Linked DNA regions of Homo sapiens: all the other regions are linked to region 1. The links come from fine-mapping of genetic effects on gene expression. A gene starts in region 1. Each other region holds a variant in brackets. All regions are shown on one strand. Distances are between the middles of the regions. Region 1 holds the start of RBM19 (RNA binding motif protein 19). Region 2 holds the start of LOC124903025 (a long non-coding RNA gene). Region 3 overlaps RBM19 (RNA binding motif protein 19). Region 4 overlaps RBM19 (RNA binding motif protein 19). Region 5 overlaps RBM19 (RNA binding motif protein 19).

The links. PIP is the estimated chance that this variant, and not a neighbour inherited with it, causes the effect. A credible set is the group of variants that fine-mapping cannot tell apart.
Region 2: its variant is the best candidate, but not a certain one, in a credible set for the expression of RBM19 in Th1 cells (Schmiedel 2018, PIP 0.63).
Region 3: its variant is the best candidate, but not a certain one, in a credible set for the expression of RBM19 in whole blood (INTERVAL, PIP 0.77).
Region 4: its variant is the best candidate, but not a certain one, in a credible set for the expression of RBM19 in follicular helper T cells (Schmiedel 2018, PIP 0.80).
Region 5: its variant is the best candidate, but not a certain one, in a credible set for the expression of RBM19 in thyroid (GTEx, PIP 0.71).

What each region holds. Positions count from the first base shown.
Region 1 is chr12:113,963,393-113,969,384 of GRCh38, reverse strand. RBM19 (RNA binding motif protein 19) reads left to right here and starts at 3,060. Exons shown (of 24, transcript NM_016196.4): 1 at 3,060-3,193. The coding sequence starts at 3,158. RefSeq lists enhancers at 2,754-2,823, 2,782-3,709, 3,710-4,638.
Region 2 is chr12:113,860,268-113,866,259 of GRCh38, reverse strand. All of the region lies in intron 21 of RBM19 (RNA binding motif protein 19), which reads left to right. LOC124903025 (a long non-coding RNA gene) reads right to left here and starts at 4,289. Exons shown (of 2, transcript XR_007063468.1): 1 at 2,444-4,289; 2 at 1-1,892. RefSeq lists enhancers at 2,225-2,823, 2,074-3,273 and a silencer at 2,955-3,064. The variant CAG/G (reference allele first, on the strand shown) is at 3,047.
Region 3 is chr12:113,825,360-113,831,351 of GRCh38, reverse strand. All of the region lies in intron 23 of RBM19 (RNA binding motif protein 19), which reads left to right. Among named protein-coding and RNA genes, the nearest start is that of LINC01234, 55 kb to the right of the region's middle. The variant G/A (reference allele first, on the strand shown) is at 4,018.
Region 4 is chr12:113,842,197-113,848,188 of GRCh38, reverse strand. RBM19 (RNA binding motif protein 19) reads left to right here. Exons shown (of 24, transcript NM_016196.4): 23 at 3,401-3,521. Among named protein-coding and RNA genes, the nearest start is that of LINC01234, 72 kb to the right of the region's middle. The variant C/T (reference allele first, on the strand shown) is at 3,316.
Region 5 is chr12:113,818,668-113,824,659 of GRCh38, reverse strand. RBM19 (RNA binding motif protein 19) reads left to right here. Exons shown (of 24, transcript NM_016196.4): 24 at 1,339-2,603. The coding sequence ends at 1,436. Among named protein-coding and RNA genes, the nearest start is that of LINC01234, 48 kb to the right of the region's middle. RefSeq lists enhancers at 4,859-5,784, 5,785-5,992. The variant G/A (reference allele first, on the strand shown) is at 2,225.

The sequences.
Region 1 (5,992 bases):
CCTTTAAAAGGACATGTGTCATTGGATTTAGGGTCTACCAGGATAATTCAGGATGATCTCATTTTGAGACCCTTAAGTACATTTGCAAAGACCCTTGATATGGTTTGGCTGTGTCCCCACCAAATCTCATCTTGAATTGTAGCTCCCATAATCCCCACGTGTCCTGGGAGGGACCCAGTGGGAGATAATTGAATTATGGGGGTGGTTTCCCCATACTGTTTTCGTGGTAGTGAATAAGTCTCACGAGATCTGATGGTTTTATAAGGGGAAAGCCTTTCACTTGGTTCTCATTCTCTCTTTGCCTGCCACCAGGTAAGACATCCCTTGCTCTTCCACCATGATTGTGAGGCCTCCCCAGCCATGTGGAACTGTGAGTCCATTAAATCTCTTTCCTTTATAAATTACCCAGTCTCAGGTATGTCTTCATTAGCAGCGTGAGAACAAACTAATACAACACTTTTTTGCAAATAAAGTCACATTTACAGCTTCCAGGGGTCAGGATGCCCCCAGTGTGTGTGGTGGTGAGGGGACAGGGGATCATTCATCCCACTACACTGCCCACCCTTCTGTAAATAGCTTTTTGTCCAGATTTGCTTTTGTTAAATCCTTTTGAGTATACCTCTGTGTCCTGCTGACTGATGCATTTCCTTCAAAAACATTTATAGCTACATACCTACCGTTTTTTAACAACTGCATAGAATTCTGTTGAATGGACAGACCTTAATTTACAATTAGCATTTAATGAACTCCTATTACCTGTCTCCTCCTGGTGCCCAGTGTGATGCTTTGCAAAGATGGATCTAAGGATGCCCCTATGGCAACATAATGTAGAAAGAACAAGTGGCCTCATCTATAACTCTGAACCTACACTGTGCGCTCCTCACCAGCGAGTTCTGTAGGTTTATGCTGTGGCAGATGCATGAGCTCCCTGCATTTGGGGCTCAGTAGGAAAGAGGCATATTCGAGGATGCCATGTTTGAGCTGGTCTTAGAGAGGGGATGGGAATGGGTTCAGAAAGATATTCCAGTGGCCAAAAGCACATGAAAGATGCTGTTTCATTAGTTATCGGGGAAATGCAAATCAAAACATTGAGTCACCACTGTACACCCACTAGAGTGGCTATGATTATAAAGACCCAATAACAAACACTGGAGGAGATGTGGAGATATTTGAACCTTCATATACCGCTGGTAGGAATATAAAATGGGGAAGCCACTTTGGATAACAGGTTAGCAGGTTCTAAAAAGGTTAAGCATAGAGTTACCATATGATCAGGCAATCCTACTCCTAGGAATATATCCAAGAGAAATAAGAACATATGCCCACACAGGAACTTACAGGTAAATGTTCACGGCAAGATTATTCACAGTAGCCACAAAGCGGAAACAACCCAAATGTCCATCATCAACTGATGAATAAATAAAATGTAATACATCCATATATGTAATACTATTCAGCAAAAAAAGTGTGGTGGCTCACGTCTGTAATCCCAGCACTTTGAAAGTTCAAGGCAGGTGGATTGCTTGAGCCCAGGAGTTCAAGACCAGCCTGGGCAACATGTTGAAACCTCGCCTCTACCAAAAAATTACCAAAAAAAAAAAATTAGCCAGGCATGGTGGCATGTGCCTGTAGTCCCAGCTGCTCAGGAGGCTGAGGTGGGAGGATGGCTTGAGCCTGGGAGGCGGAGGTTGCAGTGAGCTGAGATTGTGCCACTGCACTCCAGTCGGGGTGACAGAGCCCGACCCTGTCTCAAATAAATAAACAGATAAATAAAGTGCTGATTCATGCTGCAACATGGAAGAACTTTGAAAACATTATGCTAAGTGAAAGAAGTCAATTACAAAAGACTACATATTGTATTATTCCATTTACATGAAATGTCCATAACAGACAAATCCATAGAGACGGAAAGTAGATTAGTGGTTATCAGAGGGAAGGGAGAGGGAGGAATTGGAAGGTTATAGCTAAAGGGTGTGGTGTTTCTTTGGGGGTAATGAAAATGTCCTAGCATTGATTGTGGTGATGGCTGCACACCTCTGTAAATATAGTCAGCACCATTGAATTGTGCACTTTAAGTGGGTGAATTGCATGGTTTGTGATAAAGCTGTTAACAATAAGAAGGGGGGACGGAATGTCTTTTAGGTGAAGGAAATTGCAGAAGCTTGGCAGCAACGTCCAGTGCAGCTGAGGCACTGTGGGGAAACAGAAAGGAAATACCGTCATTTAAGAGTGAAAATAGGGGTTTTCATAGGATGTCTCCATCCAAGAGTAGGTACCGAGAATGCTCAGAGAAGCAATAGGAAAATAACATCCCTTTCACGTTCTCACCTCCTTAACCCCTAGCATAATAAAGAATTATTCCCATTTTATAGAAGTAGACACAAAGGCTCAGAGGCCATTTTGGCCAAGATCTCTCAGCTAGAAGATTGGCCAGCTGAGAGTTCCAAACATTAGGAAGGGAGGCAAAATGCTTGTGGGGCTGGGGTTGAAGGCGTAGAGACTCATTGTAGGGCCCTAGGCAGTCCCTAGCTCGAATCTGACTTTCCAATTCATAGTTATAAGACTTTGAGCAAGCTGCTTTACACGCACGATTCCCAGTTTATCTGCCTGCAAAATGAGAGCGTTTATTTCCAACATGTTCATTCCAAGTATTTACACAAAAGGCTCAATACTTGATTTGTGTTGGCTGGCAATCTCTCTAAACTTCACTTTCCCCATTTCTACGAGGAAGGCAAGGGTCCCTAATCTTGCCCCCGTTCTCAGGGGAGTCCTAAGGCTCAATAATAAAAATAAAATAAGAAAAAGGAGAGAACGCGATTGCCCGGTTGGCGCGACCCTTAACACCGAGCTAAACCGGCGCATGTTAGGGACCGGCGCCCCCTGCCGCCTTCTCCGCTGCATTGGCGTCTCACAGAATCCGCCCAAGGCCCTGCGCCTGCGCAAAATGCAAGCGCCCAGGCCCACCCCTTGTGGGGTGTGACCTCCCTGAGTAGTTTTGGATTAGCCACGCCTACTTCCGGACAGGTCAGGCCAAGGTCTCAGCCACGTGACTGTGTTCCGGCTCGGTAAAGATGGCGGCGCCCAGGGCGGTAGCGTGAAACTTGGTGGAAGACGCTGACCAGTCGTGTTGGAATCAAAACAGCGGGGACCCTGCGCCATGTCGCGACTGATCGTGAAGAATCTCCCGAATGGGGTGAGTGCAGAGGCAGGACTTGGGAATCTGAAATGAGACCAGCCGGGAGCTGTGAGGTAGGGAAGAGATGCCTGGAGGTGATCGAAGAATTTTTGCTCTGGGGCAGGACTCCGGGCCAATTCTGAACTCAAAGGGGGCGGGATCCTGGGCTTATCCCCATTTGATCCCGAGGAAAGAGGAATAGTGACTGCTTACGGTTTCACGGCCGGTTGTTTGGTACCTGACTCCTAACACACCTCTTCTCGGGGAGATGACAACTCCCACCTTGTGGCGAATACCCTGCTCCCACAACCTCTTTCATTCGATCACTGTTTTTTAGTTGTTGACCCGGGACATGGTCCGACACTGTATTTATATTCCTCTCCCAGTCTGGAAACTGTTGGGGAAGACATGGGGAATATTAATCTGCGGACCTGCGTTCCAATTCCCACTCCCATCCTTAGGGCAAGTAGGAATACGGAGTGGGTAAAGGGCTTTACAGCATTTATCCAGTAAGTGGGGAGTGGTGACCCAGCCATACTTTTTTGTTTCCCTGGAGCCCAGCGCAGAACCCGACACGTGGTAGGCAAAATAGGTGAATGTACGTAATATTAGATGATTAGATGCGGTGGGCTCGAATGGATCATCCTTTTTTCTCTCTCTCGCTGTTTTTTGTTCTGTTTTGTTTTTTTGTTTTTAAATGGATTACTGCTCCTTCCATCAGGTTAGACAGTGTCTCTTGATGCCTCGCTTTGTGGGATGAGGATTTTTAGCGTAGCTGCACTTCCTTTCCCTCCCAAATTCAGCTTTGTTGTGTTTCAAGTGTAGTTGATTCTCTTATCATTGTTTGTCTTATCTCTTTTTTTTCTCTCTCTTTCATGGCTTTTTTTGGTTTTGTTTTTTGTTTTTTTCTTTTTTTGTTTTTTTTTTTTAAACGGAGTCTGGCTCTGTCTCCCAGGCTGGACTGCGGTGGAGCAATCTCGGCAGTCTCGGCTCACTGCAACTTTTGCCTCCCGGGTTCTAGCGATGCTCCTGCCTCAGCCTCCCAAGTAGCTGGGACTACAGACACGCGCCACCAAGCCCGACTAATTTTTTTATTTTTAGTAGAGACATGGGGTTTCGCCATGTTGGACAAGTTGGTCTCGAACTCCTGACCTCAGGTGATCCACCGCCTCGGCCTCCCAAAGTGCTGGGATTACAGGCGTGAGCCACTGCACCTGGCCCCCATTTCTGTTCTAATGTTGTGAGTTTTTTCCTTTCCTTTTTTTTTTTTCATTTGTCAGGTGGGACAAAGGAACTTTGTAACACACAGTTTTCAAAATTCAAACAGTATAGTAGTGTATAACATGAGTAGCAAAGTCTTTGCTCTGTCCTACCTTCCCTCTCTGTCCAGGAGTAACCATCTTCATTGATTTGTTTTTGGGACTCCTCACATGTATCTCTGTATATTTGAGGAGTGTACTTTCCTCCTTTTGACCTGCCTGCCCCAGTGACTATCTGCTAGGCCTCAACTGTGAAAAATAAGGAATTTAGATCATCTGTTCCTCCTCTCCAGTGTCTGTAATATTCTTGTTTTTAATTATCCTGTTATAATCTCTGAGTAGTATACTTAAAAATATCTATTACTCATCCATCCATCAGGTTAGACATGTCTCTTGATGCCTTGCTTTGTGCGATGAGGATTTTTAGCGTGGCTGCACTTCCTTTTCTTCCCAAATTCAGCTTTGTTGCACTTCACAGTGTAGTTGACTCTCTTATCATTGTTTGTCTTATCTCATGAATGAAAGAATAATAAAAACAAGGGCAGTTGCAGCTGACACTTGGAGAGTTTACTGTGTGCCAGGCACTGTTCCAGGTGCTTTAGGTAAAGTAACATTTAATCCTCACCATATCCCTGTGAGGTAAGTTTTATTTTTACGCCCATTTTAAAGGTAAAGAAACCAAGATACAGCGAGGTACAGGGATTTGCCTGAGGTCACACACTGGTGTAATTTATAGAGCAGGGATTGAATTGAGCAATCTTTAGTTTAGGGATTGAATTGAGGAAATAATTAGTAGTGAGTACTTGTGATATTGCTGACACTGTAGATAGAGGTGGATAAGCCTGTGTCCTTATTTTTAATGGGACTTGCAGGCTAGCAGAAAAGAGAGGCACCAGATCATTACGATGCAAGGTGCATCACTGACATGTGAACCGAGTGCTGTGGGAGCACAGTGAGGGTTGGTTATCTCGTCCATCTAAGGCATCTAAGAAAGGCCTCCTGGAATAGGAGATGATTGAACTGAGAATGAGGAGTTAGCCAGGGCCTGTCTTGGGAAATATCACCCAGAGGGGACAACCAAAGTAAAACCTCGGAAGTGAGAAGGCTGTGAGAAATTTGTCAAAGCGTGGTGCTGAAGAGGTTGGTCAGGGCAGATCTTGAAGAATTGCATGTTTTCCTTTAGGTGCTCGTCCTTGAGACTTTGGTGCCAGAAAGTCACCGAAAGGTTTTTGGCAAAGGAATGATGGATTCAGACTTGAGCCAGGTCTCTCCCAGGCACTGAGGAATTGAATTCACTGTCTTATATTTCTGAATTGAGTCACAAACCTTGATTCTGTAGGCCTTGGGCAGATCATTTATCCCTTATGAGTTTCATTTTCTCTATAAAATGTGGACAAAAATTCCTAACTCACAGTGTGATTGAGATTTTGATTAGATCAGTTAGTAAGAAGCTACCTCAGAAAATGTCATCTTCTGGCTGGACTGCCAAGGCCTCTAGCTTCTTGCATTTTCAAACTTATTTTGGCTGTTCGTGGGGCCCTGAATGTCCCCTCAACTC
Region 2 (5,992 bases), 100 kb after region 1:
GGGAATATTGCGTTGATGGTGATAAGGTAACCTTTCTACACCTGGCTCTCACCATGATGAGCAGTAGCTGGAGAAGTTCAGTCTAAAAGGCACTCTAAGAAGGGAGAGCAAGAACAGAAGAGGAAGAAACTCCACTCCTAAATATGCCTCCATTAAATGGCTTCCAAAGCCATTGCCTCTTGTCAGAGCAGGCTTGACCCTGCACTTTGTACACACTCATCAACATAACCTTCTGCGGGAGAGAAAACATCTCAGTGCAGGGCAAACCATGCTGAAACTCCTTATTTGTGTCTGCATCTTGGCCAGGGTTGCCTGTGAAGGAGCCAGTGTCTTCTCGTTCCCACCAAGCAGCACATGATTTGAACATCATTATCCAGACAGTATTCCCTTGGTAAATGATCTAGCTGGCCCCCCTGCCCCCTTTTTTTTTTTCTTGCTGTGATGATTCATTGCCTGGAAGGAATAAACATGGATACTTTGGAAAGAGTGTTGATTCTTGAGGACCAAATGCTCCTTGTAATAGCATATGGTTGCACTGCATAAAAGAGCATCATCCTATGGGACAGAAAGACTGAATATGTTGCCCCCAAGTGTGACTATGCTTCCACAAGAACATACAGTTATATGAGATAATGCATGAGAAGTATAGGGACCTGGCACTCGGGGAGATGTCAATAGATGATGAATTCATGATTAAATGAATGGATACAGTGTTTTCTGAGTGCTAGACACAGTCTCAGGTTCTGTAGACACAACAGAGTATAAGAGCCATGACATCTTGGAGTCCACTTTCAGTCTCTAGCAAAATGAGAGGAAAGATAAATAAGTAAACAAGCCATTTCAGACAGTGCTCAGATGTGACAGGCAGGGGTGGGTGTGCAAAGGAGGCAACGTTAGATAGGATGGTCACAGAAGGCCTCTTTGAGGAGGTGGCATTTCAGCTGAGAATTGAATGGCAAGAAAGAGTCAATTGTGAAAACATCTAGGCAAGCAGGGTTCCAGGTGATACAAAAAGCAAGTGCAAAGGCCCTGAGGTAAGCATACGTTTGGTGGGTTCAGGGAATGGGGAAAGCCAGTGTGGATTCTTCATAGTAAATGAGGGGGTGCAGGGCATGAGATAAGATTGGAGAGCAAGAAAAGTATGTCTGATCAGGCACAGCCTTGATTCCCAAGTAAGGAGCTCAGAAATTATTCTAAGGATGCAAAAACCATTAGAGAGTTAAGCAATTTGGAAGAGATGATGACTGGCACATACACACAGAACTCCAGGCAGTAGTGGCCATTGAAACCCACTGTGGGAATGGTGATGACTGACAGATATTCATGAAACTGGGGACAGTAGTAGCCATTGAAACCCACTGTGGGAGTGGCGATGACTAGCACATATTTGTGAAACTTGGGGCACTAGTACCCATTGAAACCCACCAGACTGATTGGATTAGCCTCTGTTAGAGAGTTGGATGAGACAGGCTTGAGACAAGCCCTCACCAAAGGCTTTAGTTTGTATGTATCTCAGGAAAAGTGAGAATTTTAGATGATAGTTCTGTTCCCAAGCCTCCCTCCACTACAGAAATTGCCCATTATAGATGAAGGGATAGGTTTGTTCCTAGCTGTGCAGTTGGTCTATCTCTCCAACTTGCCACAACTGGGGCCCTTGGCCACATGGGAACTCTGTAAGGGAAGAGGAATGTGAGACAGGACACCATGCAAGGCAGCTGCCATCTTACCATATTTCTTGCTCAGTGGGAATGGTTCCATGGGTCCATAAGTTCACTGGTGGGGCCCTTCTTTAGGATGGGGCCAGGGGAGCAGTAAGCAAAGATCAGGCATCCTCAGCTCTATACCTTTATCAGTTGAGATAAGTGGCTTTATCCCATAGTCTTCTTGAGCATCTGAGGAAGAGGGGAGGGAGCTCACTGGCTGCTTCCCAGCTAAGAGGCTTCCCATGCAGCTGCCCCCAATCAAGGTGAGGGCAAGGTTAATACTTGACCTGCTGGTGACTCCCTCCCTGCACTCTGCATCATCTTTGGCTGCTTGTAGATAGGTGGACCAATCGTGTGAGCTCTTAGCAAAGCATAGACCTGTGGGGCACACCGCCTACTTTGAGCCTAGCTAAGCCTGATGCTGCCCATGGAACCTTGGGCAAGTCACTTCGCCTGTTGTGGTAGGTAAGGGCTCACCGAGACCTTGGAGAAATCATGTTCCTTCTTTGAGCCTCAGTTTTCTCCATCTAGGAAATGGGATTGACATTGCTCAGCTCACATGGGCCTTGTGAGTTCATGTCCAGCAGGTGCTAACATGCTGCAGGGCACGTAAGCGCTGAGGAAGTACCCAGTGAATGGACAGATGTGCGTGTATGTGCATCATGTGTGTTAGAAAATTGGTAGGGGTGGCATATTTGAAAGGCTTTTTAATGCCAAGAGATTGAGCTATTTTTTCTTACCTCTAGAAGGAGCAGAAGAAGCTTGTAGTTTATTCTTATCATGAAACCACCCCTTCATCTTGTTCAGATCACACCGTTGTTCTGATTCTGGGTCTCTTAGGTGGCAGCAGACTTTCTTTTCTCAACAATGCCTTGGGTGCAGGTGGGGAGAAGTTATGCCAGCAAACTCCCCCACATGACTCAGCACTTCTGCTGGGATTCTGGTTCTTCCAGCAGATCCGAATAGTGAGGGGGACTTATGTCCTGGGAGCAGAAGGCCCTAGGTTTGACCCCCACTTGGTGCCAGCATGCAGGCTGTGGGGTTAAGCAGGACTCCCAGCCTGCCCAGGCTCCAGGTACCAGCACAGCTGCAAAACTGTCCAGCTCCGCATCTCTGGAGGGTTCTCGCTTCCTCTGCTCCAGCCTTCCTCTCACTTCTTTCCCCCTGAGCCTGTCGCTTCAGTCAGGGAGGGAGAGAGAGACCCAAGATGATTCATCCCTTTTCGGTAGCAGCTGCTGGCCAGGGCTGGGGCAAGACCAGTCAGGGGGCACGCAATTTGCACGGAGAGAGGAAATCCCCACCCACCCATACGCTGGCCCCACACACACACACACACACACACA[CAG/G]ACACACGTATTGTGTCTGCCTTCAGGCCTGTGTGCAAACACGATTTCCATCCCCCGACTTGTTTATGAGTGCTGGGCATAATTGGCTTGCCTCATGCAACACCTCGGAGCCCCATCCCACCTCCTCCCCCCTCCTCCCTTCTCTCCCCCCACCACACACCTCAAAAGAAATTAGAAACGTGACAACAAACTCTAGTTGTGGAAAACCCACAAACCCACCACCAATCATGTTCCTGGCATGGCAGAGGGGGTGGGGCTGCAGGGTGGGGGAGTAATTGGTGAACCCAGGGTGAATGAAATAATTGGAAAAGTGAGGTGTGAGTTTGTTACCGAAGTGTGAGCCTGGTGGGGGAGGGAAGGAGGGCTGTGTTTAAAAGCCCGGTATGTCCTCTTTATTCACAGCTTCTGATACAGTAATTGCTACTTTGTGGTTTCTATTATCTGCACAGTGGGGAGTGTGGTGTGCATCTCCTTCCCCCCGAGCGGCAGAGTTGGGCTCAGGGAGGAGTTCCTGGGTGCCCTGTGATTTTCTTCCTCCCCAGTCCCTGGTGGCCCTGCGCAGCTTCGCCCCAACACTGGCCTCAGCTCCCAGGAGACAAAGGTTCATGCACAACTTCCTTCAAAAGCTGCTCTTAAAAACAGCTTCGTAGACCTTGCTGTCAGATAAGAACCTTAATAATGGCTGGTATTTATATATCGCTTATCTCCAAGGAGCTAAAGGTACTTCATCGATTTCTTCTCCCCCAACCTTTTTTTTTCTTTTTAATTCTCTTTCGATAGCTCTCTGAGATCATTAGTATTGGCCTTATATGATCCCACACCGTTATACAAGCAACCAAGCCACTCACTGTCCAGCTTTGTTCTTGGGCTGGGAGAAGCAGCCCGGATGAGAAAGATCTCGCCTCGATTTTGAGTTCCTGGGGCCATGAGACATGGGCAAGTCGCTTTTCTTCTCCGTCCCTTGGTTTTCCCATCTGTAAAACAGAGGCATGGATATGATGTATTTAAAAGACTGCATATTGCAGGCACTCATTGGTAGCGGAAATGATGGCAGCAATGATGGTGTCTTGAAGCCTCATCCATGCATTTCAGGAAGTGTCCACAGACATCGGGAAGTTCCTTCTAAGATCTAACCCTGATCTTTCAGCTCCTCCTTAAGCTTCAGTTCTCTCATGTCCTGTTCTTAGAAGGAGGAAAGAAACCTGCTCACTGTAGCCATTTCTCTGACTCTGAAGAATAATAGGATTTCTGAAGCTTCTAGAGTCTTTGTGGGTGGCGTTTCATTTGTCATGCTGATGTCTGCCTGGAAACCCCCAACCACAGCTGTGACCTCCCCCAAGGCCCTTCAGCTGCCTGGGATGGGATCCCCAGCTCCCTGATCCCTGCCTACGATCCCTGGTAGATCCAGGGTGCCCTTCTGTCCCAGCTTTCCCTGCTGAACTCTCAAATGCCACTTTTGCAGGCCACAAAAGCATGTCTTCTGTAGCCTCTCCTCAACAGCGTTTTTCTCTACCTTTTAATTATTTTTCTCGCCTTTCTCCGGACCCTTAGCTGCTTACCATGCACAGAGCATCCACAGCTTGCAGTGTGCTGCAGAGAGGGAGGAATTAACCCCAACAGTCTCTTTCTCTCTCTCTCTCTTTCTCTCCTTCTCTCTTTCTCTCTCACACCACCACCCCCCGACCCCTTCTCTCCTTCACACACACACACACACACACACACACACACACACACACAGAGTCTGGCTTACCAGAAATCTGGGCAGAGGTCATTGAGACCATCAAGGGATAGGAGATTATAGCCCTTGTGGGCAGAAGTAGAGGGTTTGCACACAGTGTGGGCAGAAGGAACTGGGACTCGGTCTACCCCCACCTTGCCTGGTGGTCTTAGGGAAGTCACTGGACCCCTGGGAGTCCACACAGGGCATTCCTAGCCACCCCGTATGGGGCCTTCCTGCTTCACCTCAGACCTGGCCGAGACTCGGGAAGAAAGAGGCCCCAGCTCTTGCAAGTGGCCAGTCCCCGTCCAGATGATGCAAGCGGGTTGAGTCATTGTGCAGCAGAAAGAGAGCTTGGGCTTAACGTCAGACATGCCTGGATTCACATTCTAACCCTGTTGCCTGTGAGGAAGGATCCCTGGCTCCCAGAGCCTTGGTTTCTTCATCTGTAACATGGGAATGATAAGGCTAACAATAGTTCACATTTGTGCTATGTGTATTTCATTTCACCCTCATCACCGCCCTCTGAGGGTAGGTGTAATTTACCCGTGGTAATGTCTACCTTCCAGGGCTACCATTTGCTTGTTTATTCGTTCCAAAACACCTTCAGGCTTCTACCCTGAGCCCGACTCCTGGGCTCACTGACACAGGTCCAGTGATGAGCAAGATAGATGGGGCCTGGACTCTTGCGGAGCTGAGCCCTAGCCCTGGCCAGGGAAGGCATGCACCCCACAGAGCCCTGGTCAGGGGGCACAGTGAGCGGTGACACTGTGGATGGGGGCAGTCACCCCAGCCTCCAGGGGTCAGGAAAGACATCTCGGGGCTAGTGCAGTTAGGTGAGGCCAAGGCACGGACAGAGGAACCAGCTCACCCAGTGGCTGTCTATGGCCGTGTTGAGAAAGCACCCAGCCTGGTCTTCCATGTGCCTCTCAGTTGCCTCATACCAGCTCTGAACGCTCTCAGGCTCCAGCCCCTTAGCTGCCGGATGTGCCATCCCTGTAGTCCCAGTGGGCTTCTGAAGACTTGGACCCAAAGAACCATTCATCTGAACGAGCTTACAAGAAAATTTGTCCACGCCCTTCCCTCCCTGTTCAAAGCCAGCATGGCAGAGGGGCTTTGGTGGAGGGAAGAGAGACTGTGTCTGTCATGGGATGCATCCGCCTTTAGGTGGCAGAATGAAGTAGGGTTTGTGGGCTTGACTCCTCAGCTCTCCAACCTCACCTTGTC
Region 3 (5,992 bases), 140 kb after region 1:
CAAGGAAAACACACAGACAAGGTTTTTATTACTGCTTCATGACCACAAATGAAAGTAGTGGGGTTTTGTAGACAGAGAGGAGAGAGAGAAAAGAGCAGAGACCACACTGGCAAGTTGTCGGCTGAAATTAGATCTTTATTTTGCCTACCAGTTATGAAAACAATGGTTTTGAATGAATCATCACTATTTTCCTACTGGAAGATTTGACCTGAAAATCAAGATTCTGACCTCTTCTGAAAAATCAGATTTGGCCAGCCTGGTTCCACATTCCCACAGGGCACCAGGCCCAAGGAATGGCTGCACGTTTATACGAAGGCTGGGCTTCCCCTTACGCACAATGCATAGCCCTCCCTGTAGTCTCCCCCGACCCCCTGGACTGTTTGATGCCATCATATTCCTATCTGGACCCTCGAGCCTTTGCACTTACACAGCCTGGTACAGACACCACTATACCTTGGCCCTATGAGATGTTACCAGCTGCTCCCTTTCAGCCTCTGCTTTCCAACCCAGGGCCTATGCCAAAAGAAAAGAGATCAGTAACTAATGTGGACCAAACCCTAAGACTTGGGGGATTCCTCCAGACCTGAGGCAGAGGAGTAGGGGATGCCTTCCCACCTTTCCTGGTTCTTTTTCCCTTTTCCCTCTGCAGTGAGTCACCCTCACCGGGACACTCCCCTTGCTTCCCAGCCGCACAGGTCTGCCAGTATCTGTAACTAATACAAACATGTGGGACCAAGTCTAGAAGCCCCCAGGCATAGCCCACCCCCCCCCCCCCCGCCCCGCAGCCCTAGCTCAGGGTAACTCCATGGGTATCAGGGCTGCAGCACCTTCACCAGCCCCTGTGTATGGGGTTGTGCGTGGCCAGTCATAGAATTCTGCACACACACAAGACACCCAGAGCACAGAGGGAAGTTACTCCACCCACCGACCCACTCTCCAGCCACTCAGGGAGCCCAGGTCCTCAGCACCAAGATTAATAACATCAGTCATCATAGCAGTCATCATATCCCGTGCTCACCCCAGGCCATTTGCATCAGAACCTCTGGAGGTAGGATCCAGGCATCAGTGGGTTCCTAGCTGATGCTACCAGACAGCTGGATTGAGAACCAATGGCCTTTGAAAAGGAAATTGCTGCTACATAGCCTGGGTCTGTTCATGCTTTTCCTGTTGAGACCCCCATCCTAGGGAGGCTGGGCTAGTGTCCCCCTCTGCGGGGCAGGCTTTGCTATGCTGTGCCAGTAAGGCTGGAGCCAACCCTATCTGAGCTCAAGGTCCTGCTTGGAAAGTGTGACCACTTGACTCTTCAGAGTCCTAGTGCGGCTGCTTCCTCATCTGAAAAGTGGGACAATGATGTTGCCTAGCTGGTGGAATTTCTGTAGGAAAGTCCAGAGCCAGCCTGCTGCTTAGAGCCAGCAGGCGCCTGAGGAGTGGTCCCTGCAGCTCGCCCCTTGGCCTTATCTTGGGCAGCTGGATTTCCCCTTTGCTGGGCACTGCCTGTCCTCTGGGGTGGCCTCACAGGACCCTTTGATTGTTAGCTTTCATGTTTGCCTGGCACCTCAACGGGCCGGGCCCTGGGCTAAGTGCTCTCATGCTTTATCTCATCAAATCCCCTGTGGTGGGTGCTACTACTGTGTCCTGTCTGCAGAAGAGTAACTTTGGTAACTCAGAGAAGGCTGGGACCACCAAGTGGCAGCACTCAGGTCCCACCTCGTCCTGTCCACCCTGAGCCCCAGTGTGGCCCCCATGGCTGGTGGTTTAGTTTATCCTGTGGAGTTTTGTTCACTGCCATATCCCCAGCATCATTCCTGGCACATAGAATATGCTGGGTCATGCTTGCTAAGAGTGACTGAAGGCAGGAATCCTTACGGTCCCCATGAGATAAGCAGAGCAGGCACCGTCCCCGTTTAACAGGTGGGAACACTGAGGTAAGGAGCTTAGCAGCTCCTGGGAGTCCCACAGTGGCAGAGGCCAGTCTGCGGCCCAGGCTCCTGCCCACCCGCTCTGCACAAGGACCCTCTCAGATCATACCTAGTTCTTAGAAGGACTCGCTGTGTTTTAAAAAGGCACAACTGGCTGGACGTAGTGGCTCATGCCTATAATCCCAGCACGTTAGGAGGCCAAGGCGGGTGGATCACTTGAGCTCATGTCCAACATGGTGAAATCTCATTTCTACTAAAAATACAAAAATTAGTTGGGCCTGGTGGTGTACGCCTGTAATCCCAGCTACTTGGGAGGCTGAGGCACAAGAATCACTCAAACCCGGAAAGCAGAGGTTGCAGTGAGCCGAGATCGCTCCACTGCACTCACCTGGGTGACAGTGTGATTCTGTCTATTTAAAAAAAAAAAAAGGCACAGCCCTAAAACAGCCTCCTGTATCAATAAAGGGACATTGGCTTGGTCTTAGGAGCCAGGCCAGTCTCCTGAAGAGTACCCTTTATTCTGTGCGTACCTGATGTGTGCCTGCTGTACACAGAGCCCTGAGATGCAGACCTATCTGGGTAGGAGAGCTCTGCCCGTGGGGGCTGCAAGATATGAAGCCAGGGAGGACAGGGAGAGACCCATGCAGAGGCACCAGCAGCTGAGGGTGGGGGTCTGGTTCAGCCAGCCTTCCAGAGCAGGCAGCCTCCCAAGCCAGGCCAGCCCCCGGGTGCCCAGCCCCCCTGCGGTACCCACATCATGGCACCCTCATACTCCCCAAGGGTGGGAGCTACAGGTGGCTGGTGTCCCCCAGCAGCCTAGGACTGCACACCACTGAGTCTGAAGATTGTGGAGCCTCATTCTGGCCTCCACACTCTGCCCCAACCTCCTTCCTCCCCTCGCCCACCTGTGCCCCCGCCCCCTGCCCTTCACCCCGGCCTCTTGGAATCAGTTCTGTCTCCGACTTAGCGGAGTTTGTGGAAGCCTTGCCTATCCTGTGTCTCGGGAAGTAGCAACTCAGGAGCCTCCAGGAACAGGAAGAAAAGCCCCCATAAGTGAGGCTGCGTGTCTCCAGGGGCAGCTAGTGCACAGCCTCATCAGTTACCTGTAGGCAGGGAGGGGACAGGTCTGCCACACTCACAGGTTAGCCATTCCAGGTTCAAGAGAAACGAGAGGTGCAGATTCTTATGTAGCATCTCCCTGTTTTTGAACATTAGTCACTGATTTCTGTATTCATGGCAAATCATGTCAGCAAATCCAGACACTCTTCTGTGGGCCCACAGTGGGAGGCCCTGCTCCATCCCATTGGTCACTTTTTTTTTTTTTTTTTTTTTTGAGACAGAGTCGAGAGCTGCTGTTGCTATCATCGTGTTATAGAGGAGGGGAGCAGCCCACCCTCGTGCTCTCAGTAACAGATTCCATCAACAGCAGTAAGAATGACCAACCTATATTGACAGCTTGCCGTGTGCTAGGCACTATTGTGAGGGCCTTACATACATATATTCATTCTTTTAATACCCTCACACACCCTAGGCGTGTAGATTTCATCACCATTCAGTAACTGCAGAAACTGAGAGGAGCCCAGAGAGGTGAAGCAACTTACCCAAGGTTGCCCAGCCAGGAGCAGCAGGGTTTGATCCTGGCAGCTCACCCACCCAGCACCCTGCATCTAGCACCCTCCACCCTGTACCTCAGGCCTCTCCACTCAGAATCCAGCCCTGGGCTTCCTGGCCCAGTGCTTTTCCCCTCCCCGGACTGTTCACGCCTGCCTCATCCCAGGGTTCCTTTCAGAACTCCCTTCTCCCCTTATCAGCCACGCTCTTCTCCCCCGGCTTGCCTTTCCTCAACGTCTGCTTCCAGAACAAAACCCCAAGAAGCGCTTTCTCTTGTCCTCCCGACGCACCCCCCCGCCCCCCCGCCCTTTCTCCCTGCCTGCGCCTTTCTCCCTGCCTGCCTGCGCCTCCCATGCAGGGCCGACAGCGCCAGCCAGGGAAGGGAGAGACACAGGCTGGCATTCTGTCAAGGAATTAATTGAAAAATAAAATCATTAGGTGGGAACTCCAGAAATGCAAAAATGGTGGTTGGAGGTTGGTGGGGAGG[G/A]GGGCAGGACTGGGGGGTTGTCGGGGGATGGCTGAGCTTTTTGTCAAGTTAATTTCTCGGGTATTGATGTTTGGTGACATTCACTTGTTGTTTATCTTCGGGTGCAGCTGTAATACTGAAAGAAAATGCACAGCTTGTTTCGTTTATTTATTTTACACCTTTCTCCGGTTCTGCATTATGTTTGTTTGGTGAAAACCCACTGAGGCTTTTGATGTCGGGGAAGTGGGATTTCAGCAGCTGTTCGCTGCAAACAGGGTGCTCCTCAAGGAAGCAGGGCCAGCGGGAGGTGCGGGGTGTCATTCGGTGGGAACTCGGGGCCTGACATGTCCTCCAGGGGGCAGTTGGGGGCCCAGCCTGAACCCTGGCAGATATGCCAGGCCCAGGAGCACGGAGGCTGGCTTATGATACATGAGTACATAGTTGGCAGGTAAAGGAATGAGATGTTTTGGTTCATCAAGGCCACAAAGCCAGGCTCCGCGTAAGAGCCCCCGCCCCATGAGTGCTCACTGCCCCAAAGACCAAGAGAGACACGAAGTCAACACCTTTCCTATCAATAATAGTAACACAGGTGTTGGTCTCAGCACCATCGACTGAGCCAGGGGCTGGGCATTGCCCTTTTTACTCATTTCAGCCTCACCACAACCCCTAGTATTTCCATTTTACAGGTTAGAAATTGAGGCACAACTATCTGGTTCTTTCTCCATCTCCCCCTGCCAGACCAGAAAGCCTTAGGTGGGGCCAAGCCAGGCTTGTTCCCCACCATGCCCGACCCAGAGCAGGTGCTGCAGGTGTCTCCGTCATGTGAGGGGATGAGAGCATGGATGAAGGCTCTGAACAACTGCTCTTGGCCTCGTCTCAGCTGCTGTTTGTCCTTCAGCAACCTACACTACTTGACCCTCAATTTTCCCTGTCATTCACTCCCTCAGTCGCTCAGCACACATTTATTGAGCATCTACTATGTGCCAGGCACAGTTCTGGGCATTGGGAATGGAACAGTGGACAAAACAGGCAGAAACCCCTGCCCTCCTAGAGCAGATGTTCCAGCCAGGAAGACAGATAATAAAGTGGAAACATGACACACAGTGAGACCGGGAGACATGCTGTGGGGGAAGTGGACAGGAAAGGGATTAGGAAGTGTACATCAGGGCACTCTGGAGGACTTGGAATTTTAAATAAGGAGGGAAGCTTCACTGAAAAGGTAAGGCCCCTGAGTGGCTCCGTGGAGGAAGAGCATTCCAGACCAAAGGAACAGCAGGTGCAAGGCCCTGAGGTGGGAGTGCTGGAAGCCAGGAGCCAGCAAGGGGCCCGAGTGCCTGAGCAGAGTGGGAGGGAAGCAGAGAGGTGGCAGGGCCTGCTCAGTAGCCCTGGCAGCCGACGTGACAGCTTTAGCTTTTCCCCAGGTGAGATGGTGCCCCTGGAGGCTTGAGCAAAGGAACAGCATGCCGTGATGGAGGATTTAACAAGCTCCCTCTGGCTGCCGTTTGAGACCAGACTCCTGGGAGGAGGGCAGAGGAAGCCAGAGGCAATGGTGGCACGGCCCAGGGGTGCAGGAGCATGGGGAAGAAGCACCCCAAGTCCAGCTCTATCTTACAGGTTGAGCCGACACAATGGATGGGGCTAGAACTCGCCCCTCGCCAGTCCCTCCAAGTTGTCAGGATGTGGGAGAGAAGAAAAAGTCCCATGCCGCCACCGCTGGCCATCCCTTAGACCCCAGGCCAGGCCTGGCCCAGGAAGGCAGGGACCCTGCCCCAGGAGTGAGCTGCCATCCCCAACTCATATTAGCAGATGGGAGGGGCGTCAGTGATCGCCTGTGGGCCCTGTTTTGTTGCGTTCTATTTTCCAGTTCCTATTACCTGCCCACAAATTCAATTTCCAGAGGCCATTGTGCACCTCCAGGGCTGGCGATTATAAGGAAACCAAGAGTGTCTAGGAGGTCACAAGGAAGGAGAGGAAGCCGGAGTCCGAGCCCCGGGCC
Region 4 (5,992 bases), 120 kb after region 1:
ATCTTAAGTGACACATGTTATGTGCCAGTGTTCTAAGTGTCAGACTTAACAGTTCTCTGAATTCTCACTACTCTTTGCTGCTGCCCTCCTTTTACATATGAGGAAGCTCGGGCTCAGAGAGGTTCAGCAGCTTGCCTGAGATCACACAGCTCATAAGCACTGGAGCAGGGATTTGAACCAAGGCAGGCCAGCAGCAGAGCCCACCCTCTAAACTGCCATGCCACCACCCCTCTTACCATGAAGAGCTCTTCCAGAGAGAGGCCAATAACGTGTCAGAGGAGTGCAGAGGGAAGAGAGAAAGATTTGTGAGAGGTGATGTCGCAAAGAAGCCAAAAGAGGGAATTTTTAGTGACTCCTGCAATGAATAGAGATCTCCTGGGCTTTCTGTGGTACGGGAATAGAGAACTGGCTTCCAAGGGAGAGAAAGAAACATTGAAATCTGACAGTGGGAAACAGAGAGGCTGGGGTTGGGGCCTCTCACCCGGACCTACCTCCTGGGATCTTATTCCGTTCTTGAGAGTTCCAGCCTAGCATTCACCAGATGCATCCCCTTGGCCACCCCCACCCCACCGTGTCCCCGGGACCACAGCTCCTCAGGGACCCTGGCACGAGGATGGAACATCCGCCACACCAGACTCCCCACCAATTCCTCTCCCCCATCTTAAAACCCCAGCTCCCCCAGTCAAGCCATTTCTCTGCCTCGCCAGCTGAGAACGCGTGTGTTTTAAAGCTCTGAATGGGCCATTTCGGCTCAGAGTCCAGATGCATTTTTATATCCACATGGAAAAAAATGCAGAGGCTCTGCTGGCAGTCAGAAAGAGTTTTTTAAATTAAAGTTAAAAAAAAAAGGAAAGAAAAAATTTTCTGCACCTGGTCCTTCACAGAACAGCACAGAAGAGAACAAAGCGTTTCTTTAATTTGGCTGCATGTCTAGTTTTAAAAAGATGCATGTTCTAGTCACCTCCCTTTTGTCTCTTCGGATTCATTTGTTTATTGAATGTGTATTATGTGCTGCCCTCTGTGCTCGTTTTGTGTAAATCTCACAGCCAGCCCCAATAGGGATGAGGAAACGGAGGCTCAAGATGTGGCAGTTGATTACCCAAGGGCATTGCGTCCTTTCCCTAGGGCTACTATAACAAAACGCCACAGACCGGATGGCTTCAAACCACAGAAATGGGCTGGGTACAGTGGCTCAGGCCTGTAATCCCAGCACTTTGGGAAGCTGAGGCAGGAGGATCACTAGAGTTCAGGAGTTCAAGACCAGCCTGGGCAATGTAGGGAGACCCCGTCTCTACAAAAAATTAAAAACTTAGCGAGGCATTGCAGCATGTGCCTGTGGTCCCAGTTACTCGGTAGGCCAAGGTGGGAGGATTGCTTGAGCCCAGGGGTTCGAGGATGCAGTGAGCCATGATCACACCACTGCACTCTAGCCTGGGTGACAGCGAGACCTTGCCTCAAAACACATTTTAAAAATCCAGAAATGTGTCTCACAGTTCTGGAGGCCAGAAGTCCAAAATCAAGGTGCTGGCAGGATTGGTTCCTTCCGAGGGAAATCCTGTTTGGTGCCTCTCCCCTGGCTGCTGGGGACAGTTGGCATCCTTGGTTTGTAGACTCATCACCCAGTCTCTGCCTCCATCTCCCCACGGCATTTGCCATGTGTCTCTGTCTTCACATGGCCATCCAATGACACTAGTCATTGGCTCAGGGCCTGCTGTTCTCCAGTATGACCTCGTCTTGACTGATTACATCTGCAGCTACCTATTTCCAAATAAGGTCACATACTGAAGCACAGGGGGTTAGGACTCAACATGGCCCCTCTTGCGGGACAGGGTCTGACCATAGGAGCTACAGTGTAGATAAGGAGCACAGTTGGATGGGTTCCCATCCAGACCCTTCCAGTTATATGATTCTTCACAGCATAAAAGAAACAAGAGCAGCAAACCCCTCCTCTTCTTGTACCCACTGGTGCTCTCTGCAACCCAGAAGCAAAGCAAAGGGCCTTCTTAGCCACCGTTGCTCTCCACTGCCAATGCTCAAGCACCTGGAGCCTACTGCTCTTTAAACTAATGCCTGCCCGAAAGCTGTCTGCTGAGAGAAAGCAGCTGCAAATGTGATGTCTACGGTAACAAAACAACAGCAACGAGAAGTAGCATCTATTGAGTAATTATGGTGTGCCCATACTGTTCTAGACGCTGTTAACTCATTTTTGTCCCTAGAACCCTTGAGATTGGCATATATGAACATACCCGTTTTATGGATAAGGAAACAGAGTCCAGGAAGATTTCTTTAACTTGCCCAAGATCTTCAAGTTAGGACCTGCGGGGTCTGTCCTTCCTGGTCAGGGTGACCTCAGACTCCAAGCTTTTGGCCACTAAGCTCACGGCCTCTCTGTGCCGTGGGAGTGTTTGGGGATGAGCCCATCAAGTTAGGGCGTCCCTGTGCAGTGCCATTGAACTTGAGACCTAGCGATGTTTAAGACGGTACTGATCACTACCGTATGATTCCGTTCCTATGAAATGTCCAGAATATGCAAATCCATAGAGACAGAAAGCAGACTGGTGGTTGCCAGGGGCTGGGGGACTGCTAGCTAAGGGGTGTGGGGTTTCCTTTGGGGGTGATGAAAATGTTCTAAAATTGATTTGATGACATTTTGCACAGCTCTGCGATTATACTAAAACGCATTGAATTGTCTTCAGACAAGCAGTGTATATAGTATGTGAATTCTGTCTCAGTATAGCTGTTAAAAAGCAGAAAGAGGGAACCAGGCAGCATGTGGGAGTCGGGAACAGCAAAGAGTAAGCGGGAACAGCCTGTGCCAGGACCCAGGCTGCTGAGCTGGGGGTGGGAGCTGGGAGCGGGAGTTGGGAGCGCAGGGCTGGGGGAACCAGCGAGGAAGCGAAGGGCACTGGCAGCAGAGACAGAAGGGGCCCCTTCAAGAGCAGCGTGGGGGACAGAGTCACCAGGGCAGTGAAGGAGAGCGACACCCAGTGACACCCAGAGGCCTGCACGCTTGTCATCCAGCAGCCGGCCAGGGCTCGGCTTTCTCAAGTGGCCGCCATGCAGACAGCCGGGTGGGAGGCGAGCCCACTAATGGGGTCGCCCTCCACAGATCGGATGACACACGGCAAATAGACGGCTGCCTCAGCCCAGGCACCAATTACAGCCCAGACGGCAGATATATTGACTGCTCAGTCACTTGCAGCTTTCTCCCTGGGAATGCAACCCACTAATTAAATAGATGTGCCCAACCGCTCCCCAAACCCTCGCTGGAGATCAGATGTCACGGGGCCAGAACCTGGGCTTTGGCATCTGAGA[C/T]GCAGGCAGGCAGCTGGCAGGCAGAGTGGAGTGTCTGCCGCACTGATCCAGCTGATGTGCAGTTTCGTTTCTTGTCCCTCTGCAGAGAGCCTTCAACGCCCTGTGTCACAGCACCCACTTGTACGGGCGGAGGCTGGTGCTGGAGTGGGCCGACTCCGAGGTGACCCTGCAGGCCCTGCGGCGGAAGACGGCCGCTCACTTTCACGGTAGGAGCGGGACGGTCTTTTGGGCTGACTCATGGGCCCCCTGGGGAACACAAGAGGTGGGTGGGACATCTGAGAGAACTGCCCTCGACCCAGCAGGCTATGGGCACAAGGGCTGCCAAGCACCTCCTGCTGGGCATCCTCCCACAGCCCCTCCAGACCTGCTGTCCACCTTCCTTGGGCACTCCCTGCCGGGAGGCTGGCCTACATGGAAGCATCTGGGTTCTGTGCCCCTTTGGGTTGCAGTCGGGTTAGGTCACTGGGGGCCTTGGCAGGAAGAGACAGAGGTCAGAGTGTTTATCCCTCCCTGCCTGCCAGGTTGCCAGGTCACAGCTCGTGGCCGTTGGCTCTGTCCTCACAGTGCTCTGTGTTCAGATTCCGGTGTCCGCAGGGCAGGGATGCTCACGGCCTTCCTGGTGGCCAGCCCTGGGGACCACACTCTTGCTGATCACTTTCCTCCATGACCCGGTCCACTTCCTGCCGGAGGGCTGATGCCCACAGGTCTCACTCACCTCTTACCCACCTTGGTGGTGTCATGTGGCCTCAGTGACTATTCAGGTGGTGGCCAGAAAATACTGAGCGCCCGCTGTGACCTCATGCACCCACATGACAGTAACCAAGCAGGGCCCTAGGCTCAGGTGGAAGAGGCTGGGACACATTCCTCATCAGGTGGGCTAGAGAGGCTTCACTGCAGAGGTGACATCTGTACCCAACAAAGGGCTGCCTAAGCAGGAGGCCAGGGGCAGGGGAGACCCCCAGGTTGGAGCAAGCTCGGTATGTGTGAGAAACAGGGAGGACAGCATGGCTGGAGGTGAGGGGAGGAGAGAGGGAGCAGATGAGGTCAGCAGGGCCTCGTCTTCTCCAAGAGGTTGTGTTCAGTCAGGTGAGGAGAGGGTGAGACAGCCCCAAGAATCGCTCCACCCTGGACACATGGAAAGTATGGCAGGTGCCCCTTGCTGTCAGGTACACACCCTCCAAACTTGGGATATCAAGGGGTACTTGACCTTGATCCCCATCTCCACACCTCCGCCTCCCATCACAGAAGTGCTTCCACTGTGGCCTGGGCCCGGCAGCAAAAGGGCAGCTGCTGGCTTTCCACCCACTTTGGATCCCGCTTACTTGGCGATGGTTCACCCAGCTGGGGAGCTTCTCTGCCTTTTGCATGCCCAGAAAAGCCAGGCTCCGTGATGGGGAACAGTCCTGTCTGTGGTGCCACCCATGGTGCTCTGAGGTCTTCCTGGCACGCCACCGCATTCCTCCCCACCTCATTGTCGCCTGGGTCCCAGGTCTCAGGACCTTTCCTGGATGGAGCCACCATTGTGCCCTCATCCATCCCTTCTCTGTGGGGCAGCTCAGGGCCTCGGGTGTCACCTGGGTACAGACTAGGGGTGTTTGCTGCCAGCATCCCCCAACCCCACTTCTCTGCGTAGACATGGAACCTGGAGCCAGGAGTGATTATTCCCTCGCCTGACCGGTGCAGCTCTGTTGCCAAACCAGGCAGCACCTTGGGAACAGTTTCTCTTATGGAGATAGGAGCCTTCCAGTGGGGCCACTGGTCTTGCTTAGGGCGAAACGACTGGGCTTCTGAGAAGCAGCGTCTCAGCAATGCAGCAGGACTGCATCCCCCACAAGTGGACTTGGAACTCCAGAGATAGCAGGGAAGCCCCTTGATTCTAGCCCAGCTGCCACACGCTTCAGAACACTGCCTCCTGCCCACACTGTGGTCTTCCCAGACTCCTCCTTCCTCCCACCACACCTCCCACAGAGTTCATTGTTCCCCAGACTCCAGACAGGATTCTGTGCCTTTGCACATGCTGTTCCCTCTGCTTAGAATGCCTTGCCCCTCACTTTTTTTTTTTAACCTGATAAATGCCTTCAAAACCCAGATAGAATGACACCTCCTCCAGGAAGCCTTCGCTTTCCCTCCCCCTCCACAGGTATCAGTAATTTCTCCATCCTCTACTCTCCTCTTCTGTCACCGTGCCTTCTTGCCACGTTGTAACTTATTTCTTTACGATTTGTTATCCTCTCTGGACCCGTGCCTTCCCCACATGGGGGCTGTGTCGTGCTCATCTCTCTTAGTGATCAGTTCTTCCCTGGGTCCCCCGTGCCCAGCATAGTACCTGGCACATGCCAGGCTCCCAGTCTCAGACTGGGGAATATTCGAGCTGAGGCAAATGTGGAACCAGAGAAATGAAGGCTAAATACACAGTTGCAAGCTCACAACTCAATAAGACCCCAAATCCTGATGTGCAGAAAGAGAGCCTGTCCTTATCGACAACCATTGACAAGCCCAAATGCGCCCGTCGGCAAATGTTTGTGTAAGGGACTCTCCCTGGAGTGGAGACGGGGGCCCATCTGCCCCGCCACCCCCATCCCCCAACCCCGGGGCCAGCCGAGGAGTGCAGGCTCAGCGGTTCTGCCCTGCCTTAGAGAGAAGCCCCCTTCAATAAATTGAGTTCCAAAGACAGCAC
Region 5 (5,992 bases), 140 kb after region 1:
GAGGTCTCAGTAGAAAAGGCTAGGCCGCTGCTGTGAGCTCCAGGGAGCTCACAGCCTGCGGATAAATGGAGGTAAAGGGCCTCAGGGTGGTTTATTTGGGGAGGTGTTTGAGCCATGGAAAGGGAGGGGATTTGGACAGCCTCTTTACACTGCCTCTGTACAAATCAAGCCTTATCTGTGAGCAAGGCTGCTCATCGACAAGTGGTTAGACTAGCAGAGGGACTGACAGAGGAAGCCAGCCTGGATTCCAACCTCGCTCTTTTCCTGGAGGGCCAAGGGGCCCCACACGTCCTCTCCTGCCACCATTGATCCCCTTGGAGTTCTCTGCCTAGAACCCGAGACTTTCATAAAAAGCAGAAAGACTGTGGGCTTAGGTGTGACTGGGGTTCGAATCCTGGCTCCACCGCTTCTTAGCTGAGTGACTTCAGACCTGCCTGTCCGTGCCTCAGTTCCGTCTCCTACAAGAGGCAGCATACCACCTGCCTGTGGGGTTGCTGACAGGAGTGGAGCCATGGTTCATGATGGTACCTAATCAGGAGGTGCTTGTGGGGCTAAGCCCACCATGCCCTTTCCTACCTCCGTGCTTTTCTTCATGACCCTGAATCCCCTCTCCTCACAGAAAACTCCTCTGCATTCTTCAAAGCCCAAGTCAAATAGTCCTCCTCTTCAAAGCCACCTCTAATTGTCATTCCCTCCACGCCTCCTCTGGAATCCTTGAGCTTTGCATCTGTTCTATTCACCCACCACTTATCGAGCACCTGTTGTATGCCAGCCATGTACTGCACCATTAGCCTGGCCTCCAAGAAAACAGAAACAACTTCTACTTGTCTCCCCAGCCGTTGTCCACTGCTTGGTCCAGCCTCTCTGAAGGGTTTCAGCTTCCTCCAAGCCAAGCTCTGACCTGCTGTGAGGAAGCAGCACAGGAGACCCTTTCTCTCTTTTTTCTCAAGGGAATCCTTTCCCCTGCGGGTAGAAGATGGGGAGGGGATGGCCAGGGAAGCAGGAGAGTTTCTGGGGGTGCGAGGGAGGCAGCCCCGCCATGGTGATGCTGAGACTAACTCTAGTGTTTCTCTCTCCTCCTCATTTCCCCTTTGATTCTCTCCCCTACTCCTTATCTTTCTTCATTGCCCCATCCTCTCTCCACCTCCCTCTGTATCTTCTCTCCCTCCGCTCTCCCCAACTTCCCTCTCTTGCATTCTCTCGCTTCTGTTCTGTCTCCCCGCACCCTTGTTCTGCTCATCTCTCCCCTCTCCCTCCTTCCTCTGTCATTTCTCTCTTCCTGCCTCCCAACCCTCTCGGCTGTTCTTTTCTCCTCTCTTGCCATCTGGGCTCCCACAGAGCCCCCGAAGAAAAAGCGGTCTGTGGTGTTGGACGAGATCCTGGAGCAGCTGGAAGGCAGTGACAGCGACAGCGAGGAGCAGACCCTTCAGCTGTGAGCTGGCACCGAGAGGGTGTGTGGCTCCGGGGCCCTGGGGACCGGGACAGCCGCTCCAGCTTCTGCACTCACCACCATGTGGGCTGGGGGGCGGGGCGGGGAGCGGCAGGCGGCCCCACCCTGCACTGGTCCAAGGTCGGAGGAGACAGGGGATGAGGAAGGCCTCAGGCCACTGCCCAGCGGCCCAGGCATCCTGGGTTTCACCAGTGACGCGTTCTAGCAGACACTGACTGCGCACCTGCTCTGTAGCAGACACGGAAGAGTCCAAGGGAGCAGCCACGTTAGGAAGAGAGACTTGGGAACAGCTACACAGGGAGCTAGAACCCCTGCTCCCCCTGTCCCCACCCCAGGAGAGTAAGGGGACGAGGGCCAGCTCTCTGGCATCAGGCTGCTTGGACATGAAACCCCGTCTCCAAGCTCAAGCTGGGAGACCCTGGCCCAGTTTCCTTATCTCCTTGGGCCCAGCCTTCCCCTTGCTAGCTAGTTCTTACTTCATAAGGTTTTAGAGAGAAATAAACGCAGTAATGCATGAAGAGTGCCGGGCATGGTGCTGAGCCCTGTTCCTGCTCTCCCTCCAGGGCTGCTGAGCTAGAATTCCCACCTATGTCTTTCCAAGGGACTGTTCACGGCTTGGGACTTGGTCTCTGTCCTGCCCCATCCTCGTCACTTGGGACCACGAGCCCTGGTTCAGTCACCCAGGGAAGCCTCCCAGCGGCTCATGAAGCATCGAGCTCCAAGCCCAGATGCCAAGCTCCCTGGCTGAGCTGAATGATGTCACTCATGGTGGAC[G/A]CGTTCTGCTCACGGGCCCAGAGCCCTGTGAAATGCATCAAGGTCCTCTCCGCTGGCCAGCAGCATCCCCAGGCTTCTCTCAGGCGCCCGTGTTCACATTTTCTCCAGCCTGAGACGCAGCCTCCCGCCTGGAAGGGCCTGTGCCAGCACCAGGCAGAGGGCAAGACGGAGAGGGCAGAGCAAGAACTGCACTGCATCTCACTGCAGTCTGAATCTAGACATCGCCATTCCCCGAGGTGCGACCTCAGACTAATGACATCCTGGCTGAGCCTCTGTTTTTCTCTCTAGGAAATGGGGGTGATAATTGTGCCTACCTCAGATAGACAGTGCCAGAATTAAGTGAGTCAAGCCAAGTAAAGCCCAGAGAAGATTCTCATCAGCACTTTTGTTTTCTTCTTCATTTAGAGTCACTGGGTGGGCCTCCAAGTGAGAGTTTGGGAATCTTCAGACTCTGTGCATAAAACATGGTCTGTGCATTTTGGTGGGGATGAGGTTCCAGTCTTCATCCAGTTTTCGGAGTGGCCCAGAGCCCAGGCAAGGCAACACAGAGCTGGCAGCCTGCACGACCAAGCATGCGCCTCGTGTCCTCTAGGGCAGGCACCCCCTTAGCCATCCAAGCTCATCCCTGAGAATTCGTGGAAACAAAAGACACAGAATGGCTCGTTCCCCAGCCGTTTATTTTTAATTTTTTTAGAGACAGGGTGCAGTGGCATGATCATAGCTCACTGCAGCCTCAAGTGGTCCTCCCACCTTAGCCTCCCAAAGCTCTGGAATTACAGGTGTGAGCCATCACGCCCAGCCACATTCTCCAGCTTTTATAGTGGGGTGGCTCACAGAGTCACATCAACCACAGCCTTCTGGATGTGGGGGCTGAACAGTGTCTCTGTTAAACCACACCCAGGCCGACCCTCAGGTGACCAGGGTCCCAAGTTGCCGTAGGTCATGCGGAATGACAGGGCTGGAGACCTACCCCATGCCTTCCCACTGCTCAGATCTGTGAGCTGGATCGTGTCCTGTTCGGCGGCACATGGCTCCTTCTGGCTGAACCTTCTGGTCTATACAATTTGTACTCACATTTCCACACCACCAGAGCCAGCAGGGATGGCTGGCTGATCACCAAAACTCAGGTGTAGACCCACGGGCCTGGTGCAGAGGCAGGCATCTTTTGGCACTGACTTAACTGGCCCAGAGGATGCTTCTAGAACCTCCCCCCAGAGCAGGATTCAGCATCATCCAGGGCTTGGTGCGGGGTGAGCAGACATGGGCTCTGTATTCGGATCTGCCTGGGCTCCGTAACAGTCCACCACTCTCCAGCCTCGTGAGCCTCGGCAAGTGACTTAACCTGCTGAGTCCTCAGTCTCCTCATCTTTAAAATGGAGTGATGCAAGTAGCATCTCCGTCACAAAAGCGTTATCAGGCCCAGGCAGCTGCAGGCCCCTGCCAGGGCTCACACAGTGAAATGATGGGAATCAGGGCTGTCCAACCCTTCCTGCGTCACTGCCTTCCCTGTGGCCAAAAGAAAGCTGGTGAGCTGGGGAAGGTTCAGGAACTGCAGGAGAGTGAAAGGTAGCAAGAGGAGGGAGAGCTTCCAGCCACTCGCCAGGCCTGGCCTGGAATTGGCAGTGGGGAGTGAGGCAGCCTAGAGGCCATATACTGAGCCTGGCCCCTGCACCCCTGCCCCAGGCACGCACTGTTTGGAAGGGGCAGATCTGTGAGCACACAGGAGTAGTGGAGTCCACTCCCACAGAGATCTCAGGGTGCCCCTTCATGCCGCGCCCACCAGACTGCACCCTCATCTCCTCTCTTCCGGCTCAGCTGTCCTCGTGCAGCCAGTGTGGCCTGACTGATCCGTGAGCTGGATCATGTCAGTCTGCAGCTTCAAACCCTCTAGGGCCTCCCTGACGCATGGAAAGTCGAGTCCCGCTGCTCACCCCAGCACCGAGGCCCCACCTCACCTGACCCTGCACTCGCTGTCCCGGCCTTCCTCCCTGCAGGCTCCCACCCCAGGGCCCTCGAGCTGCCTCTTCCCTCTGCCTGGGATGCCCTTCCCTCACATTCTTCCTGCGTGGCGCCTTTTTATTTTCCTTTGAGATCTTAAATCACGCTTGTCCAACCCAAGCTTGGGCTTTGAATGCAGCCCAACACAAATTTGTAAACTTCCTTAAATTTGCAATTTTTTTTTTTTTTTTTAGTTCATCAGTTATCACTAGTGTTATTGTATTTTATGTGTGGTCCAAGACAGTTCTTCCAGGGTGACCCAGGGAAGCCAAAAGTTTGGATGCCCCGGTTTAACTTCTGCTTCCTCACTGAGGGAGACAGACTCCTGATCAGTTCGTCTGCAGTAACCACACCCAGCTCCTCTTTACACCCAGCCCCAACCCCCTATCCCCCATCCCCTGTCCCTCTCAGTCACAGCACTCAGTACAGGGGACAACCTGGAGTGTGAGCAAGATCTCAGTGACCCAGAGCCTTTTACCCTGTCAAAAATAACTGTTTTAAACGGGAACTAGGAAAGCAATTAAGATTTTTGTTACAATCATCATCATTGTTCTAGAATGCAGTAAAGTACAGCCAGGTAGCCATAAAGCGGAGCTCGGGAAAAGTCATTTGCCTGGCCCAGAGGAGGGGCTTCATCTCTTCTTCCTTTGGAGAAGAGGGACTGGTGAAAGCGTCTTACGAGAAATTCCTCCATCCAGCATGTGGGGGTTGAACTGGGAGACTCTAAGCCTTTGAGCCAAGGCAGCAAGGGACTGAGTCACCGCTGTCACTGGGAGGGGGACACGGGAGCTTTCTGAAAGGCGGCTTCGGTTGTTTTTGAAGCAATGATGGGACGTTGGTAGACACAGACACCCAGAAGATCTGGGAGAGAAACTCCAGAAATAACCCACAGAGGTGGCACTGAGGAGGGAGCACTCCTCCAGGGCGGTGAGCCTCCTGACCCGGCTCAGGACTGACTGCTGCAGGGGGCAGGAAACTGCCTCAGCCACATCTCAGGGGGCTGTGACCCTTCCCTGCCGATATGGTCACCAGAGAGCCGGGAAAGAGAACCATAACAGGCTGGACCAGAGCACTTGCGTAGGAAAGGAGAGGTGACACCAAGAGGCCAGAGGGGCCAAAGGGACACAGGGAGGTGGGAGGTCAGTAGGACACGTGCCTCAGAAAAGCCAGAGGCACACATCTGGATGAGGCCTGTGACCCGGTGTTCAGAGTGTGGCTCAGTTAGCTGGGAGGAACGGGGACAGGCTGTTTCCAGAGTGGAGGGCTGGCTGGAACCGCATCTGCTGTCCTCACGTCCGTCTCCCACCCGCTGTGGGTCTCAGGGGCCTGGCCCCTTGAGCTGTGTCTCTGAAACTCCCTTATCAAGAGGCTTGTGTTCAGTTTGGCCAGCAGTGGGCACTAGCGGGCGCCTGGAAGGCTGGTAGAAGAGAAACTCCAGGCATCCCGCCCTCTCCCTCTGTCCCACGTGGCGTCTCCACCAAGGGTCCACCCCTGGATGGGTGAGGAGGGCCCTGGCATCTCTACTATAGGATACACACAGTCAGACTGCAGGAGGGAGATGGGTGGTCAGACAGGTCCTGGAGAACAGACAGGGGTGAGGGACAGTGGGGCCTGGAGGAGGGACAGGAGTGAGAGACAGTGGGGACGGGAGGAGGAGAGCGGAATGCACAGGCCCTGACTCCAAAGGCCTGCGTTAGAATCTCTAGGCTCTCAGTGTCTCCAGGCCTTGCGTTCCATGTCTTTCAAATGGGTGCAGGAATTCCTGCCTCA